Regions from separate parts of the Homo sapiens genome. Here region 1 is linked to region 2. The links come from fine-mapping of genetic effects on gene expression. Tissue or cell type: whole blood. Region 2 holds a variant in brackets; the other region holds the start of a gene. All regions are shown on one strand. Distances are between the middles of the regions.

The links. PIP is the estimated chance that this variant, and not a neighbour inherited with it, causes the effect.
Region 1: TRPV2 starts here. The variant in region 2 is fine-mapped to the expression of TRPV2 in whole blood (TOPMed, PIP above 0.99).

The regions. Positions count from the first base shown.
Region 1 is chr17:16,410,808-16,418,807 of GRCh38, reverse strand. It overlaps TRPV2 (transient receptor potential cation channel subfamily V member 2), which reads right to left and starts at 3,237. Exons shown (of 15, transcript NM_016113.5): 1 at 2,975-3,237; 2 at 940-1,246. The coding sequence starts at 1,139. It also overlaps the pseudogene LOC124904150. RefSeq lists enhancers at 1,507-1,616, 1,957-2,006, 2,267-2,336, 3,287-3,406 and a silencer at 2,447-2,566.
Region 2 is chr17:15,978,500-15,986,759 of GRCh38, reverse strand. ZSWIM7 (zinc finger SWIM-type containing 7) reads left to right here. Exons shown (of 5, transcript NM_001042697.2): 4 at 5,616-5,720. Among named protein-coding and RNA genes, the nearest start is that of ZSWIM7, 17 kb to the left of the region's middle. RefSeq lists enhancers at 3,968-4,657, 7,035-7,621, 7,622-8,207. The variant G/A (reference allele first, on the strand shown) is at 3,774.

The DNA.
Region 1 (8,000 bases), 430 kb before region 2:
CTGGCAGAAGTGGCCATTTGGACAAAGAACTTTCTGTCACCAGGGTGGCATCATGGTCCTGGGGTAGGGAAGCCCATTGAGGGCACAGATTGAGGTACTGAAAGCATCAAGGGCCCGTCCTGCCTGTGTCGGGCAGGCTCCACAGCTCCCAGAATCTCCTCATGCATCCTCCCCTACCCTGGTGCTGAATCTGACCACTGTCCTCCAGCACAAACAGGAAGCAGCTCTAGCCTGCGAGGCCAAAGCTGGTGGCTGTACCTCAAGCATGAGAAGGGAAGAAGGGGCTTCTGTGGCAGAGTCTAGCCTGGCCCATGAGGATTCTCCAGCCTCACTGGGCAGGCCCCGCCCCCGGGCAGGGAAGTAGGGGGTGCCAAATGCAGCAGGACTGGAAGTGGGACTCTCAGGAATGTGGTGCTCACACAGTCTGAATTGGTGGAAAGACCACAGGAAAATCAAAGTGCAGATGACTCCAAGCAGAAGCCTGTCATCCCCAATCCCACAGTTCACGTCCCCTGAGTGACAGGCTCAGTCTTGCAGAACTGAGGAGAGCCTGGGACATTTCCAGATGTCCTTGATTCTCACTGGATGGAGTGTGGATCCTGCTGCCTTCCCCAACAGGGACCATGACAGGGGTGGGAGTTGGCATGAACAGGGGGATTTGAGGGTCAGTTGAGGACTTAGAGCTCAAGAATGTATCTCATGAAGAACATGACCTCAGAAGGCAGAAGGCCAAGAATGGGGAAGCCTCTGGAAAGAGCAATGCCAGATGGCAGAGCAGAGGCAGCCTGTCGGGCCCAGGAGCCACCAGGGCCAGACTGAGGACTCCACAGGCTGTGGGAAGGGGCACTGGTGCTGGACTAGTCAATGAGTCTCACTCCGGGTGCTCTGCTGGAGCTGGGCAGGGGGCCCCCTTTGCCCTGCCCCCACTTGCTGTCTCACCTGGCACCTGTTCCCTTTCGGTAGTTGAGGTTGACTCTTATCTGAGGGGCGAATTTCCGGTCCTCGCCCTGGAACTGTGACTCCATGGGAGGCAGCCCGCTCCCAAAATCCAGCTTTCCTCTGTCCGCCTCAGAGCCATCTTCTTGGCCTCCATCTAATGTCTCCAACCTGAAAACTGGAGAGCTGGAGGGTGAGGTCATCCTAGGAGGAGGAGGCTGCTCGGTCCAGCCAGGACCTCTGTGCAGATGGAGATGTCAAGGGTCCTGTCTTCCTCCCAGCTGCGCGTCGGTGTTGGCCTGACTGGAGCCTGCAAAAGGAGGTATTAGGTTAGTGCAAAAGGCTGGGCGTGGTGGCTGGGTGTAATCCCAGCACTTTGGGAGGCTGAGGCTGGCTGGTCAGCTGTTAGAGACCAGCCTGACCAACATGGTGAAACCCCATCTCCACTAAAAAAAATACAAAAATTAGCTGGGCATGGTGGCTTGTGCCTGTAATCCCAGCTACTAGGGAGGGTGAGGCAGGAGAATTGCTTAAACCCGGAAGCTAAGATGGCACCACTGCACTCCAGCCTGGGCAACAGAGCAAGACTCTGTCTCAAAAAAAAAAAAAAAAAAAATTGCGGTTTTTGCCATTACTTCTCATTACTTCTAATGGCAAAAATGCCAAGTGCAAGTAGGTCCACCCACTGTGTGGGAGCCCAGCCCCAATGCAGGGGAAGTGGGCCAGGAGGGATGAGCAGCAGGGGTGAGGAGAGGGAGGGAGGCCTGTGGGGTGAGGAACAGGGAACCAATAGGGCCACCCTTTTGATGTTGTCCCCCAGGAAGAGCCATGACTGTCCCCGACTTTTCCTCTGGGACTTCCTGGAATCTGAGGGGTCACAACCCCTGTTACCATTTACATTAACAGCACAACCCTTTCTTTACACAACGTCTTGCCTGGCAGCCAATATTCCAACAGATAAAAGTGCGATGACTGGGATGGGGCCAGTCACTCAACCCCTCGCCAAAGAAGGGGAGCTCTAAGAAGAAATAACTGGGAAAACCACTAGACTATCAAACCCTTCATTTTGCTGCCAAGACTACTAAGGCTTAGAAAGGGGGAGTGGCTTTCCCAAGGTCGCCAGTTGTTGGCAGAGCCGGATCTGACACCATGCGTCTACCATGACGTTCCTCTTCCGTTTTCAAAGCCTTTCAGGGTCTGTCTATATTTTCAGTCTGATTCAGCTCTGAAGGCATCGAATACTACCTTTGTGTGCCTCAGGGCCTCTGGGGGCTTCACGAAGGGAGGGAGGCCCCTAGCCTGTGGCCCAGGCTCTCTCCACCACGCTGCCTCAGGCCCTAGGCTGGCCTAGGAAGCTCAGCAAACAGCACAATCTCACCCTCACAGGAAAACTGAAACCACAGCCTCCATCACTTGGCAAGGGTGGGGCCTCGGTCAGGGTTGGGGAACCCTCATGGGCCCAGTGAGCAGGATCAGAAAGAAGAAGGAGTCAAAGAGTGGTAAGGAGACAGAAGGGTGGAGAAGGGGGCAGGGGGCAGGGGGCAGAGAGCAGAGAGGAGCGGCACCAGCAGAGGGAAGTGGAGAGGGTAGGCTGGGACCAGGCCCTGGGGACCCGGGTGGGGTATTTTCCCATGGAAACATGGGAGGTGGGGAGCTGCCTGGCTGCCTCAGTTTGCAGATGTGACCCACCACCCTTTCTACACACACTGGGGCAGAAGGGTGCTCTTTCCGTTTCATACCGTTTAGCCCATCTGTGTCCCCAACCAAACCCTGGCCCATTCCTCCAGCCCTAGACTCCCAAGCCCCAGCAGCAACAGTTGTCTGTCCAGCCCCCACCCCACCTCCTGGGACCCTCACCCACCCTGGCAGCAGAGGAAGGGGTGTGGAGGTCCAGGGAGAGGGTGCTGGAGCCCCACACAGACCCTGGCTCCAGGCTGTAGAAGCCAGGAGCCCACTAGGCCTTCCCCACCCCATCATTCACTGTCAGGCTTGGAGACCCGGCCCCCTCCAACGTCCCCAGCATTGCCCACCGACTTACCCCGCAGGCTGAGGCCAGGGCGTGGCGGCTGCTGGGATCCCGGAGCTTCTCAGTAGCAGGGGCTGCGGGAGGAAGTGAAGCCGGGAGGGGCTGCCGGCGCTGACAGCAGAGGAGCGGCGGAACCTCCCTCCCCAGCTCTGAGCACTAAGCTCCAGCAAGCAGGTTCTGGTCTCTCGGTCACCCTCAGCCCACCTGGCCAGCCGGCACGGTGGAGAACGGGAGCTTAACTCTCCCCTGTCAGGACAGGCTAGCCACCAGAGACTGACCATCTGGACACACCCTGCTGCGAATCAGGCTCCACCCCCACCCCTCCCCCTTCTAGCCACTAAGGTCTCAGGTGGGGGTGGGTGACACTCAGAGGCAGCCCTTGGATGCTGGGGACTTGCCACCCATGGAAGCTGCCATGGATGGGGGATTCTTCCCCAAGTCCACTGACAGCTATCTCCTCCCCTTCTCCACCACATGCCTTCCAAGCAGCCGTGTGGCCCATAAATGGGCCTGAGTTGACCCATGGCAGGGGAGAAAGCTGATGTGGACAGCCCCCAGGGAGAGGCTCAGCCCAGCAGATGCCCCTGGGAACACAGTCCCACCCACCCATCCACCCAGCAGTTGGGGGACTTTCCCACCTCCCAGGACCTTCTCCCAGCCTCCTGACCCCAGGACTCTGATGGCTAAAGTTCCCCTAAAGGTGCTCCAAGCACCAGCCAGCAGGTGGAGACAAGGAGGTGGGCACGCACTGCTAAAATCAGACCTCACCACCAACGGGGCCCTGGTCTGGACTCAGTCTTGGAGCTTGGGGACCCAACCACCACCGAAGTAGCCCTAGGAATCTCTCTCCCTCACTCCCAAAACCTGGCATCAGCTCTTCCTCCAAAATTTGTCTTTCTGAGTGGTCCAAGCCACTATCACTGCTCCCCTGGGCAACTGCAGCCACCTCCAAACTGGTCTCCCTGCTTCATTCTTGCCCCACACTCATAATCCATTTCTCCTTATAGCAACTGAAGTGACCTTTTAAAAATGGGAACCAGGGCCGGGCGCAGTGGCTCACACCTGTAATCCCAGCACTTTGGGAGGCCGAGGTGCATGGATCACTTGAGGTCAGGAGTTCAAGACCAGCCTGGCTAACATGGCAAAACCCCATCTCTACTAAAAATACAAATATTAGCTGGATATGGTGGTGGGCACCTGTAATCTCAGCTACTTGGGAGGCTGACGCAGGAGAATCGCTTGAACCTGGGAGGCGGAAGTTGCAGTGAGCTGAGATTGTGCCACTGCACACCAGCCTGGACAACAGAGCGAGACTCTGTGTCAAAAAAGAAAAAAAAAGAAAACCAGGTCACCTAACGCCTTGACTTAATCACAAAACCTCACCCATGGTGCTTGGAATAAAATGCAAACTCCATACCATGAGCCCTCAAAGTCCAGATGCCCTTCTCCATCGCTATCCGTCACTCATGGCAACCCTGTCATGCACATTACACTCTAGGCCTGCGCCATCCAATAAGATAGTCACTAGCCACAATGACTGTTTAGATTTAAATCAATTATAATAGGCCTCACGCTTGTAATCCCAGCACTTTGGGAAGCTGAGGTGGGTGGATCACCTGAGGTCAGGAGTTCCAGACCTGCCTGACCAACATAGTGAAACCCCATCTCTACTAAAAATACAAAATTAGTCCAGGCGCGGTGGCTCATACCTGTAATCCCAGCACTTTGGGAAGCCAAGGTAGGTGGATCACTTGAGGTGAGGAATTCGAGACCAGCCTGGCCAATATGGCAAAACCCCATTTCTCCTAAAAATAAAAAAAAATAGCCAGGCGTAGTGGCACGTGCCTGTAATCCCAGCTACTTGGGAGGCTGAGGCAGGAGAATCGCTTAAACCTGGGAGGCAGAGCTTGCAGTGAGCCAAGATTGTGCCATTGCACTCCAGCCTGGACAACAAGAGGGAAACTCTGTCTCAAAAATAAATACATAATAAAATAACAGTAAACATTCAGTTCTGCTGTCCCATTAGCCACATTTTAAATGCTCAGTTGGCACATGTGGCTAGTGGCTACCATATCGGATAGCACACAGATGACAAATTTTTCTTTTTTTCTTTCTTTTTTTTTTTTTTTTCTGAGACGGAGTTTCATTCTTGTTGCCCAGGCTGGAGTGTAATGGCACGATCTCAGCTCGCCGCAACCTCCGCCTCCTAGGTTCAAGTGATTCTCCTGCCTCAGCCTCCTGAGTAGCTGTGATTACAGGCATGCACCACCATGTCTGGCTAATTTTGTATTTTTAGTAGAGACGGGGTTTCTCTATGTTGGTCAGGCTGGTCTCAAACTCCCGACCTCAGGAGCTCCGCCCACCTCAGCCTCCCAAAGTGCTGGGATTACAGGCGTGAGCCACCGTGCCAGCCTGAGACATTTTTCATAAACATAGAGTTCTATTAGACAGCACTGCTCTAGACATTCTGAACACATTTCAGTCTCCCCAGTATGCCATGCCTCTTCTGTTCCACCTGCCAGGAACACACACACACACACACACACACACACACACTGCTCTTGATCTGATCTAGCCAACTCCTGCTCATCCATCATCTCTCAATTTAAGCATCACTTCCTTTAGATAGCCTTTCCTAGACCCTGGACTGGGCTGGGGATCGCCACTATGTGCTCCCATGACACTCTGTACTTCCCCCACATCTCATTATCCGTTACTGTAATATTTATTATATTGTCTGGCTTCACTTTTTTTTTTTTTTTGAGACGGAGTCTCATTCTGTTGCCCAGGCTGGAGCGCAGTGGCATGATCTTGGCTCACTGCAACCTCCACCTCCCAGATTCAAGTGATTCTCCTGCCTCAGCCTCCCCAGTAGCTAGGATTACAGGCACGCGCCACGACACCCGGCTAACTTTTGTATTTTTAGTAGAGACAGGGTTTCACCATGTTGGCCAGGCTGGTCTCGAACTCCTGACCTCAAGTGATCCGGCCACCTCCGCCTCCCAAAGTGCTGAGATTACAGGCATGAGCCACTGTCCCCGCCTTCACCTTTAACAATAAAAAATACTTACGGAGCACTCACTATGCACCAGACACTGTGCTAAGCGCTCAACATGTAACTCCCAGAGCAACCTTATTTCACAGACAAGAAAACTGAGCATGGGTAAGGCCAAGGCCACAAGGCTGGGAGGTGAGAAAGCAAGGATTCAAGTCCAGGGCCACAGGCTTACCACCATACTTTCCAAGGGGTGAGATCTTGCTTTGTTGCTGTATCCCCAGCAACCAGCACAGTGCCTGGCATCCAAGTGGTGCTCAAGAAGGCTTTGAATGACAGGATGGCTTATAATCATAGTGCAGAGGGCACTGCTGTGCTGTTGAGAAAAAAGTGAAAAGTGGACAACCTGAAGTCCTCCAGAGCCATCACCACATCCGGTGAAAATGACAATTGGGTAGACAGATAACCTTAATTGCAAATTCTGGTTACAAAAAGGCCTTGGATTGTAGCCATCAGGGAAAGGCAAATCAAAAGCACAATGTGGTCCCACTTCACACTACTAACATAGCTATTATAAAAAGACATGTAACAACAAAGTGTTGGCAAGGGTGTGGAGAAATTGGACCTGTCCTACACTCCTGGGAGATTGTAAAATGGTGCAACTACTTTGGAAAACAGTCCGGCTGCTCCTCAAAAGATTAAACATAGAGAGCTGGGCGCGGTGGTTCACTCCTGTAATCCCAGCATGTTGGGAGGCCGAGGTGAGTGGATCATCTGAGGTCAGGCATTTGAGACCAGCCTGGCCAACATGGCGAAAACCCTCCTCTATCAAAAATGAAAAAATTAGGCCGGGTGCGGTGGCTCAGGCCTGTAATCCCAGCACTTTGGGCAGCCGAGGCAGGCGCATCACCTGAGGTCAGGAGTTCGAGAGCAGCCTGGCCAACATGGCAAAACCTTGTTTCTACTAAAAATGCAAAAATTAGCCAGGCATGGTGGTGGACGCCTGTAATCCCAGTTACTCCAGAGGCTGAGGAAGGAGAATCACTTGAACCCGGGAGGCAGAGGTTGCAGTGAGCTGAGATCGCCCCATTGCACTCCAGCCTGGGCGACAGAGCAAGAGTCTGTCTCAAAAAAAAAAAAAAAAAAAAAAATTAGCAGGGCATGGTGGCACATGCCTATAATCCCAGCTACTGGGGAGGCTGAGGCAGGAGAATTGCTTGAACCTGGATGGTGGAGGTTGCAGTGAGCTGAGATCCTGCCATTGCACTGCAGCCTGGACAACAGAGCAAGGCTGTCTCAAAAAAAAAAAAAAAAAAAAGGGCCAGGCGCGGTGGCTCACACCTGTAATCCCAACATTTTGGGAGGCCAAGGCGGGTGGATCACGAGGTCAGGAGATCGAGACCATCCTGGCTAACATGGTGAAACCCTGTTTCTACTAAAAATACAAAAAAAAATTAGCCGGGCGTGGTGGCGGGCGCCTGTAGTCCCAGCTACTTGGGAGGCTGAGGCGGGAGAATAGCATAAACCTGGGAGGCGGAGCTTGCAGTGAGCCGAGATAGTGCCACCGCTGCACTCCAGCCTGGGCAACAGAGTGAGACTCTGTCTCAAAAAAAAAAAAATAAAATAAACATAGTTACCATACGACCCAGCAATTCCACTCCTAGGTATGTACTCAAAGAAATGGAAACATATGTCCATACACACTTGTACATGAATGTTTACAGCAGCATTATTCATAATAACCAAATAGAAACACCCCAAATGATGATTAACTGATGACGAATGGATACATAAAATGTGGCATATCCATTTAATGGAATATTATTTGGCCACAAAAAGAGAAATTAAGTACTGATGTACACTATAGCATGGAAGAAACTTGAAAAATTAGGTTAAATGAAAGAAGTCAGTCACAAAAATCACACACTGCATGATTCCATTTATTTATTTTTATTTTTATTACATCCTCAGATAAGGGACACGTCAAACTGATAAGAACAGATACTACACTTGATTTTAGCTGAAAGGTCAAGAAGTAATCTG
Region 2 (8,260 bases):
ATTCACCATGTTGTACCATAGATACCCTGAACTTATTTCTCCTAACTGAAATTTTGTACCCTTTGACCAATATCTCCTTATCTTCCTCTTCCTCCCCCACCCCAAGGCCCCTGGTAACCACTATTTCTTTTTCTATGAGTTCAACTTTTTTTTTTGTTTTAAATAAAGACAGGGTCTTGCTATGTTGCCCAAGCTGGTCTTGAACTCCTGGCCTCAAGCAGTCCTCCCCCTTCAGCCTCCCAAAGTGCTAGGATTACAGGCATGAGCCATTGCACCCAGCCTATGAGTTCAACTTTTTTTAGATTCCACATATAAGTGAGATCATGTGGTATTTGTCATTCTGTACCTGGCTTATTTCACTTAGCATAGTTTCACTTAACAAAATCCTCCAGAAATTTTTGTAACTAAAATAAGATGGCCAGGCGTGGTGGCTCACGCCTGTAATCCCAGCACTTTGGGAGGCCGAGGCAGGTGGATCACCTGAGGTCAGGAGTTCAAGACCAGCCTGGCCAACGTGGTGAAACCCCGTGTCTACTAAAAATACAAAAATTAGCTGGGTGTGGTGGCAGGTGCCTGTAATTCCAGCTACTCGGGAGGTTGAGGCAGAAGAATTGCTTGAACCCAGGAGAAGGAGGTTGCAGTGAGCGGAGATCGCACCATTGCACTCCAGCCTGAGTGACGAGCAGAACTCTGTCTCAAAACAAACAAACAAACAAAAACACAAAAAAAAACTTGGATGGTATTGTCCTACTCAAAAGAGACTGCCAATTATTAGATGAATTTTCTCATGGAGAACTTAGGAATAATCAAAGTCACTGAACTTGCAGTTTGTACCTGAGGAGGTGTGTCTGTCCTCTTTCCTGGTGTTTTTATTTTTGGTTTTTAGGTAGCTAAAATACCCGAAACTAGAGGGACCTTCAAGTTTTTCCCATTGCTTTTAGTTTGGGATATTTGGTCTTGATTCCATTATGGGCACAATACTTGACCTGGCAAGTAGACTTTTGTTTGAAATAGTTTAATTACTGTTGACTTTTTGTTCCTCCCATTGGTCAACAGTAACTTAAGTCACTGGTTTAGTTTTTGTCGTTCACATCTGGTATATATTACATTGCTTTATTAATTATAAAATACTAACTTCCAAGAATTGTGGCTGTCATCTTGGACTTTGAATTAAATGAGGCTGTAGAAATCTTATACACCCTCAAATTAACCTTAATGGTTGCATTGTATGGTAATATAGTAAGAATTTGGCTGAATTCAGGAGTTGTATGAGATGATAAAAGTTGAGTCACATACTGCCTTAGTGCCCAGCTAGTTATCTTTTCATAGGTCATTCTTCATCCCATAGGTCAACTCTAATATTATTGTTCTCCAGATGTAATGTGAAATAATTCTAAAGTCATTGTTATGTTGCTGACACCTGAGTTGTTTTCTATAATTTTTTTTTTTTTTTTTTAAGGCAGAGTCTCGCTCTGTTGCCCAGGCTGGAGTGCATTGGCATGATCTTAGCTCACTGCAACCTCTGCCTCCTGGGTTCAAGTGATTCTTCTGCCTCAGCCTCCTGAGTAGCTGGGATTACAGGTGTGTACCACCACGCCTGGCTAGTTTTTGTATTTTTAGTAGAGATGGGGTTTCACCATGTTGTCCAGGCTGGTCTCAAACTCCTGACCTCAGGTGATCCACCACCTTTGCTTTCCAAAGTGCTGGGATTACAGGCGTGAGCCTGCACTCCTGGCCACTTTTTATACTTTTTTGATTCACTTAATAAGGAGGATGTTTCAGTCAGGAGAGGCTAAGTTATGCTGTGGTATCAATGACCCCAAATCTGAAAGGCTTACAAAAACAAAGTTTTAGATCTCATTCATGCTGTGTATCCACCAGGAGCCAGCTGTAGCTCTGTTCCAAAACAGCTTCATGCAGGGATCCCAGTGGGCAAAGCAGCCCATATCTGGAACACTGTGAATCTCAAAGAGAAAAAGGAAAACATGGTACACAATTTTTAACATTTTTCGCTTGGCTACTCAGATTTTACTAAAGCAGGTCACATGGCCAGCCTGTATTTAACAGGCCAGGAATGTATAATCCTGTTTTCAGAGAGAAGCACCAAACACAAGGAACAATAACAAAGACACTGTGGAGTGTCCTAAGAGGCTTGGAGCGGTCATAAAATAAAACTGTACCCATGAATGGATGACCATGTAGATGGGTCACCTCTCCTTGCGACCTAACTGAAACCACAGTAGAACCACAGTAGAAACCACCTCCAAGTGAGGTTCCTACAAGTTCTGTCAGCCATGGTCTGAGTATCCTCTTTCCAGCATGTTCCTTTTTTAAAAAGCTCTCTCCTTCTGGGGATAAACATTCCAGACTATAAGCGGGAAAACTAGGAGCAATTCCTGTAAGAGGAAGTTGTTTTTTCACTGAAGGGTGAAGGAATTGAATTATGTTATCCTTAAGGTCAATTTCCAGTTCTAAATGTTTCTAACTCAGATTTTGCCTGATTGTTGGGTTCATTAGTTGTCCACTGCTAGATAAGCGAAAAGCAAATTCGAAATTTAACCTCTTTTGGTGTTTATTGCTTTAGGCAGTTGAACATTTTGAGTCTTAGCCCTTGAAAGGCTCAGGCAAGGAAACTCTGTAGAATTTCTCCCCATCTCAAGTCACCAGCTGTTTATTCAGCATGATCCAGGGAGGATTATGATGGACGGGGACTCGCAATAAGAAGGAAGCAGTGAATTATTCTAGTCAGTACAGAATCCCAGAGGCTTCTGCTTGCTTAAGTTTAAATCTAGAGAGAAGAGACGAGATAACTAAAGGGAGAAGAAACCTAAAGTTGTATTCATTGGTAATAGTTTAGACACCCAAGAATTATAGGCCGGGAGTGGTGGTTCATGCTTGGAATCCTAGCAGTTTGGGAGGCTGAGGCGGGTGGATCACCTCAGGTCAGGAGTTCAAGACCAGCCTGGCCAACATGGCAAAACCCCATCTCTACTAAAAATACAAAAGTTAGCCAGGCATGGTGGCACATGCCTGTAATCCCAGCTAATCAGGCGGCTGAGGCAGGAGAATGGCTTGAACCCAGGAGGTGGAGGTTGCAGTGAGCCAAGATTGCATCATTGCACTCCAGCCTGGGCAACAAAATGAAACTCTGTCTCAAAAAAAAGAATTATACATGTCACTGCTGGATGTTGTGGGTTTTTTCTTTAGGATTAAGTAGAAAACAATCTGCTTTAATGCTCTTCCTTCAGTGTAAGCTTCCACACATGCTGGGGAAATCTCTCCATTGATACTGAATGGTCTCGGTGATATGTTCATAACACATCAGAGCCTTGCAGTAGGTAATATGCAAGGTGTGCTTTTTCAACACCTAATTTGTAACTGGGTGGAAATCTTTTTTTTTTTTTTTTTTTTTTTTGAGACAGAGTCTTGCCCTGTCACCCAGGCTGGAGTACAGTGATGCAGTCTTGGCCCACTGCCACCTCTGTCTCCCGGGTTCAAGTGATTCTCCTGCCTCAGCCTCCTGAGTAGCTGGGATTACAGGCACCCGCCACCACACCTGGCTAATTTTTGTATTTTTAGTAGAGATGGGGTTTCACCATATTGACCAGGCTGGTCTTGAACTCCTGACCTCATGATCCACCCGCCTCAGCCTCCCAAAGTGCTGGGATTACAGACGTGAGCCACTATGCCCGGCCTGAACTGAAATCTTGAATGTGTTCAGTAGGCATCTTCTTACCCAATCATTGGCTATTTCTGGTAACCTAAAATCTCCC[G/A]AGGAATTCTGACTGCGTCAAAAAACCATACTGAGGCTGGGTGTGGTAGCTCATGCCTGTAATCCCAGTGCTTTGGGAGGCCAAGGTGGGAGGATCACTTAAGCCCAGCAGTTAAAGACCAGCCTGGACAACATAGCAAGACCCCATCTCTACAAAAAAAATTTTAAAATTAGCATAGGGTGGTGGCGCACACCAGTACTCCTACCTCCTCAGGAGACTGAAGTGGGAGGATCACTTTAGCCGAGGGATTCAAGACTGCAATGAGCTATGATCTGCCACTGTACTCCAGCCTGGATGACAGAACAACATCCTGTCTCCAAAAAACAAAAATTAAAAAAAAATGTTAATAAAAGCTGTACTGGGATAACTGCATTATATGAACCACTGAAAATGTGACAAAAGCACAGCAGTGGAACCTGCTGTTTGTTCTTGCAGTCAAACCATACCTGTAGCTTTATTCTCTGTGGGTAAGAAAGATTAAAGAATCCTAGGAGTGCTAACATTGTAATTCAAAAAAAATTTAAAAGTCCTTGCTTTTTCATTTAGATTGCCATCTGAGAGCCTAAAAGTGCTTTGAAGGCTGTGTGGCAAATTCCTAAGTGGCAGTTCATTATAAAATCACCCTCAGGACATTTCTGCTTCCCTCAGATACTAATAATAATCTTACGCCTCCAGGTGGGAAGTTAACTCTAGGAATGAAGACCTCAACAAAAAGTTTTTGGCTGCTTGGTGGTAGAGAGACTTAAACAAAGGATTTCTCCAGCAAATTTGTGCGATCATACTACAGATGTGTCTTGTTTCTCCTGTACCTCTCCTTTTTGTCCCTCTTGACCACCACCAAGACTGTTAGACTGTGCCTCTTATCAACCCACTATGTATCAGTGTCCTCCTTCCATCCTGCTAGATGAGTAGGCAGATCTGGGCCTGCCTCTTTTCCTGAGACCTCCATCCTGAACAGCTGAGTCATTCCTTTCGCAAGGGTCTTTGCTTTATTTATTCTCTCTGCTCTCAAATGCTTTTCAAAAGCCTCTTCCCAGTTTCTTCTTTTGTTCTTCTGTGACCTATCTTTATTTTAGAGATGGGATCTTTGTCACCCAGGCTGCAGTGCAGTGGTGCAGTCACAGCTCACTGCAGCCTTGACCTCCCAGGCTCAAGCAGTCCTCCCTTCTCAGCCTCCTGAGTAGCTGGGACTACTGGCATGTGCCACCATACCTGACTTTAAAAAAATTTTTTTTTCTATAGAAACGAGGTCTCACCATGTTGCCCATGCTGGTCTTGAACTCTGGGGGGGGTCAAGTGATCCTCCCACCTCGACCTCCCAAAGTGCTGGGATTACAGGCTTTGAGCCACCACACCCGGCCTGAGACTTATCTTACTCCTGCCCTGCTACTGACCCTTTGCCTGTTTTTACTCTCTCTTTAGGTATGTAGGAAGCTTTAGAAATTTATACACCTGCTGTGAAATACCAAAGGTTAAGAACCCCCACAATAAAATGTAGATGAGAGATTCCCCCCCCCCACTTCCTTCTTATTACAGTCAGCCCATAGAGTGGGCCCCATGAATCACTAGGCGTAGGAACAGAATGGTTTATGTGGTTGGTTGAACTAATCTGAAACTCTTCAGTTCCTTTATATGCTGTCCTAAAGGTGAGCACTGAGAGGTGAGGAAGGGAGAGTCTGTACACTGGAGGAAGAGAAGTTGTTTCCTCTTTTATGTAAAACATTACTGCAGTTCTTCTCGGTGCAATTTGCAGAGCAACTCTGAGTCTACATAAATAAAAAGGGAAAGAGGTGGTTTTTCCAGCACATCTGAGGTCTGATCCCATCTATCCTTTCTTTGTAGGTCCTTGGAAGTTCCAGTAAAACATACACATGTTTGGCTTCTTGTCATTACTGTTCATGTCCTGCATTTGCATTCTCAGTGCTACGGAAGAGTGACAGCATCCTGGTGAGGATGGGGAAGACTCTTCCCACTGTAGTTGAATGTAGAGAGAAATTGCCCTTACTTTGTGGTTTAACTATTCTACAAAATGGGAATCTTATTATATGTTGAAACAAATGGTAGTTTTTTGTCTTTGTCTTCAGTTAGTCACCTCTTAGGGGTTTAGCCTCTCAAAATGCAATGTCATTTTTAGAACTGCATCAATTTCCTGAATTTTTATGTAAAAGATCATGAGTGAAGCTTTGAGAAGGAAAAAAAGGGAATCCCAGAAGTGGGCACTGGGGAATTAGATGGCCCCATAAAAATATGAACTAAATTCGATGTTGACAACTTTGCATATCCTACTTTCAGCCATGTGGTATATCTTTGCACTACCTGTGAGACAGCCTGACACCACACTTGACCTTCACATGGGGCATGAGTACCTTCACCTATTCCTTTAAGCCTTTGCCAATTTCATCAGAGTCCAGACCATGAAGCAGAAACAGGACATACTCACACACACCTTATTCCAAAGGAAAAAACACTACCTTCCTGAAAGCAGGCAGCTGTTTTCTAAGTCTTGCGAAAGAAGAAAATAATGATGTCCACTCCATTCTTTCCCTTTCTTTTACACTGTTAACTTCTTAAACATCTTGGGACCTGGCTGGCAAGTTGGGTATAGCATTGTCCAAGAGGCCACATTCGTAACTGATGTGCCCTAAGTGTATCTCAACTGCAAGAGACAGGATTGAACCAAAACCCCTTCAAGATCTAAAGCTGTGTTCTCTGACATCAGATTCAACGCAATCATCTCCCCAGAGGTGTGTACAGGCCAATATATGCAAGAGTTTTGCCACTACTCCCCGCCCCCCAACCCCAGAAGTATAACACAGTAGTTAAGAGAGTAGCCTAGACCAGCCGCCTCGTCCGGGAGGTGAGGGGCGCCTCTGCCCGGCCGCCCCTACTGGGAAGTGAGGAGCCCCTCTGCCCGGCCAGCCGCCCCGTCCGGGAGGGAGGTGGGGGGGTCAGCCCCCCGCCCGGCCAGCCGCCTCGTCCGGGAGATGAGGGGCACCTCTGCCCGGCTGCCCCTACTGGGAAGTGAGGAGCCCCTCTGCCCGGCCAGCCGCCCCGTCCGGGAGGGAGGTGGGGGGTTCAGCCCCCCGTCCGGGAGGGAGGTGGGGGGGTCAGCCCCCCGCCCGGCCAGCCGCCCCGTCCGGGAGGGAGGTGGGGGGGTCAGCCCCCCGTCCGGGAGGGAGGTGGGGGGGTCAGCCCCCCGCCCGGCCAGCCGCCCCATCCGGGAGGTGAGGGGCGCCTCTGCCCAGCCGCCCCTACTGGGAAGTGAGGAGCCCCTCTGCCCGGCCAGCCGCCCCATTCGGGAGGGAGGTGGGGGGGGTCAGTCCTCCGCCCAGCCAGCCGCCCCGTCCGGGAGGGAGGTGGGGGGGTCAGCCCCCCGCCTGGCCAGCCGCCTCGTCCGGGAGGTGAGGGGCGCCTCTGCCCGGCCACCCCTACTGGGAAGTGAGGAGCCCCTCTGCCCGGCCACCACCCCGTCTGGGAGGTGTACCCAACAGCTCATTGAGAGCGGGCCATGATGACAATGGCGGTTTTGTGGAATAGAAAGCAGGGAAAGGTAGGGAAAAGATTGAGAAATTGGATGGTTGCTGTGTCTGTGTGGAAAGAAGTAGACATGGGAGACTTTCCATTTTGTTCTGTACTAAGAAAAATTCTTCTGCCTTGGGATCCTGTTGATCTGTGACCTTACCCCCAACCCTGTGCTCTCTGAAACATGTGCTGTGTCCACTCAGGGTTAAATGGATTAAGGGCGGTGCAAGATGTGCTTTGATAAACAGATGCTTGAAGGCAGCATGCTCGTTAAGAGTCATCACCACTCCCTAATCTCAAGTACCCAGGGACACAAACACTGCGGAAGGCCGCAGGGTCCTCTGCCTAGGAAAACCAGAGACCTTTGTTCACTTGTTTATCTGCTGACCTTCCCTCCACTATTGTCCTATGACCCTGCCAAATCCCCCTCTGTGAGAAACACCCAAGAATGATCAATAAAAATAAATAAATAAATAAATAAAACAAAAATTAAAATTAAAATTAAAAAAAAAAAAAAGAGAGAGTAGCCTAGAGACTCTGATGAGCATGTGGTTACAATACCTGTCTTCCTAGGGAGCTGTCAGATTTCAGTGAGATAATCTATGAGAAGCACTTCACAGCCTAGTGCCTCAAGGAATGTTAACCATTGCTGTGACAGCTTTCTGAAGGCAAGGAAGAAATATAACTTAGGACTAACGTGAGGAGTGCAGGTAGTCTGGGTTTTCACCATGGGTTACATACCTTGTGCCTGATGGATCTAAGCCATTTCCCAAAGCAGCAGGCAAAGTAAGTCTGTGTCCACTCTGATTTCTAAAGAGAATACTCCTGTCTCATCATCTTTATCTGCAGTTTTTATTTATTTATTTTTTGAGACAGTCTGGCTCTGTCACCCAGGCTGTAGTGCAGTGGCGTGATCTCGGCTCACTGCAACCTCCACCTCCTGGGTTCAAGCGATTCTCATGGCT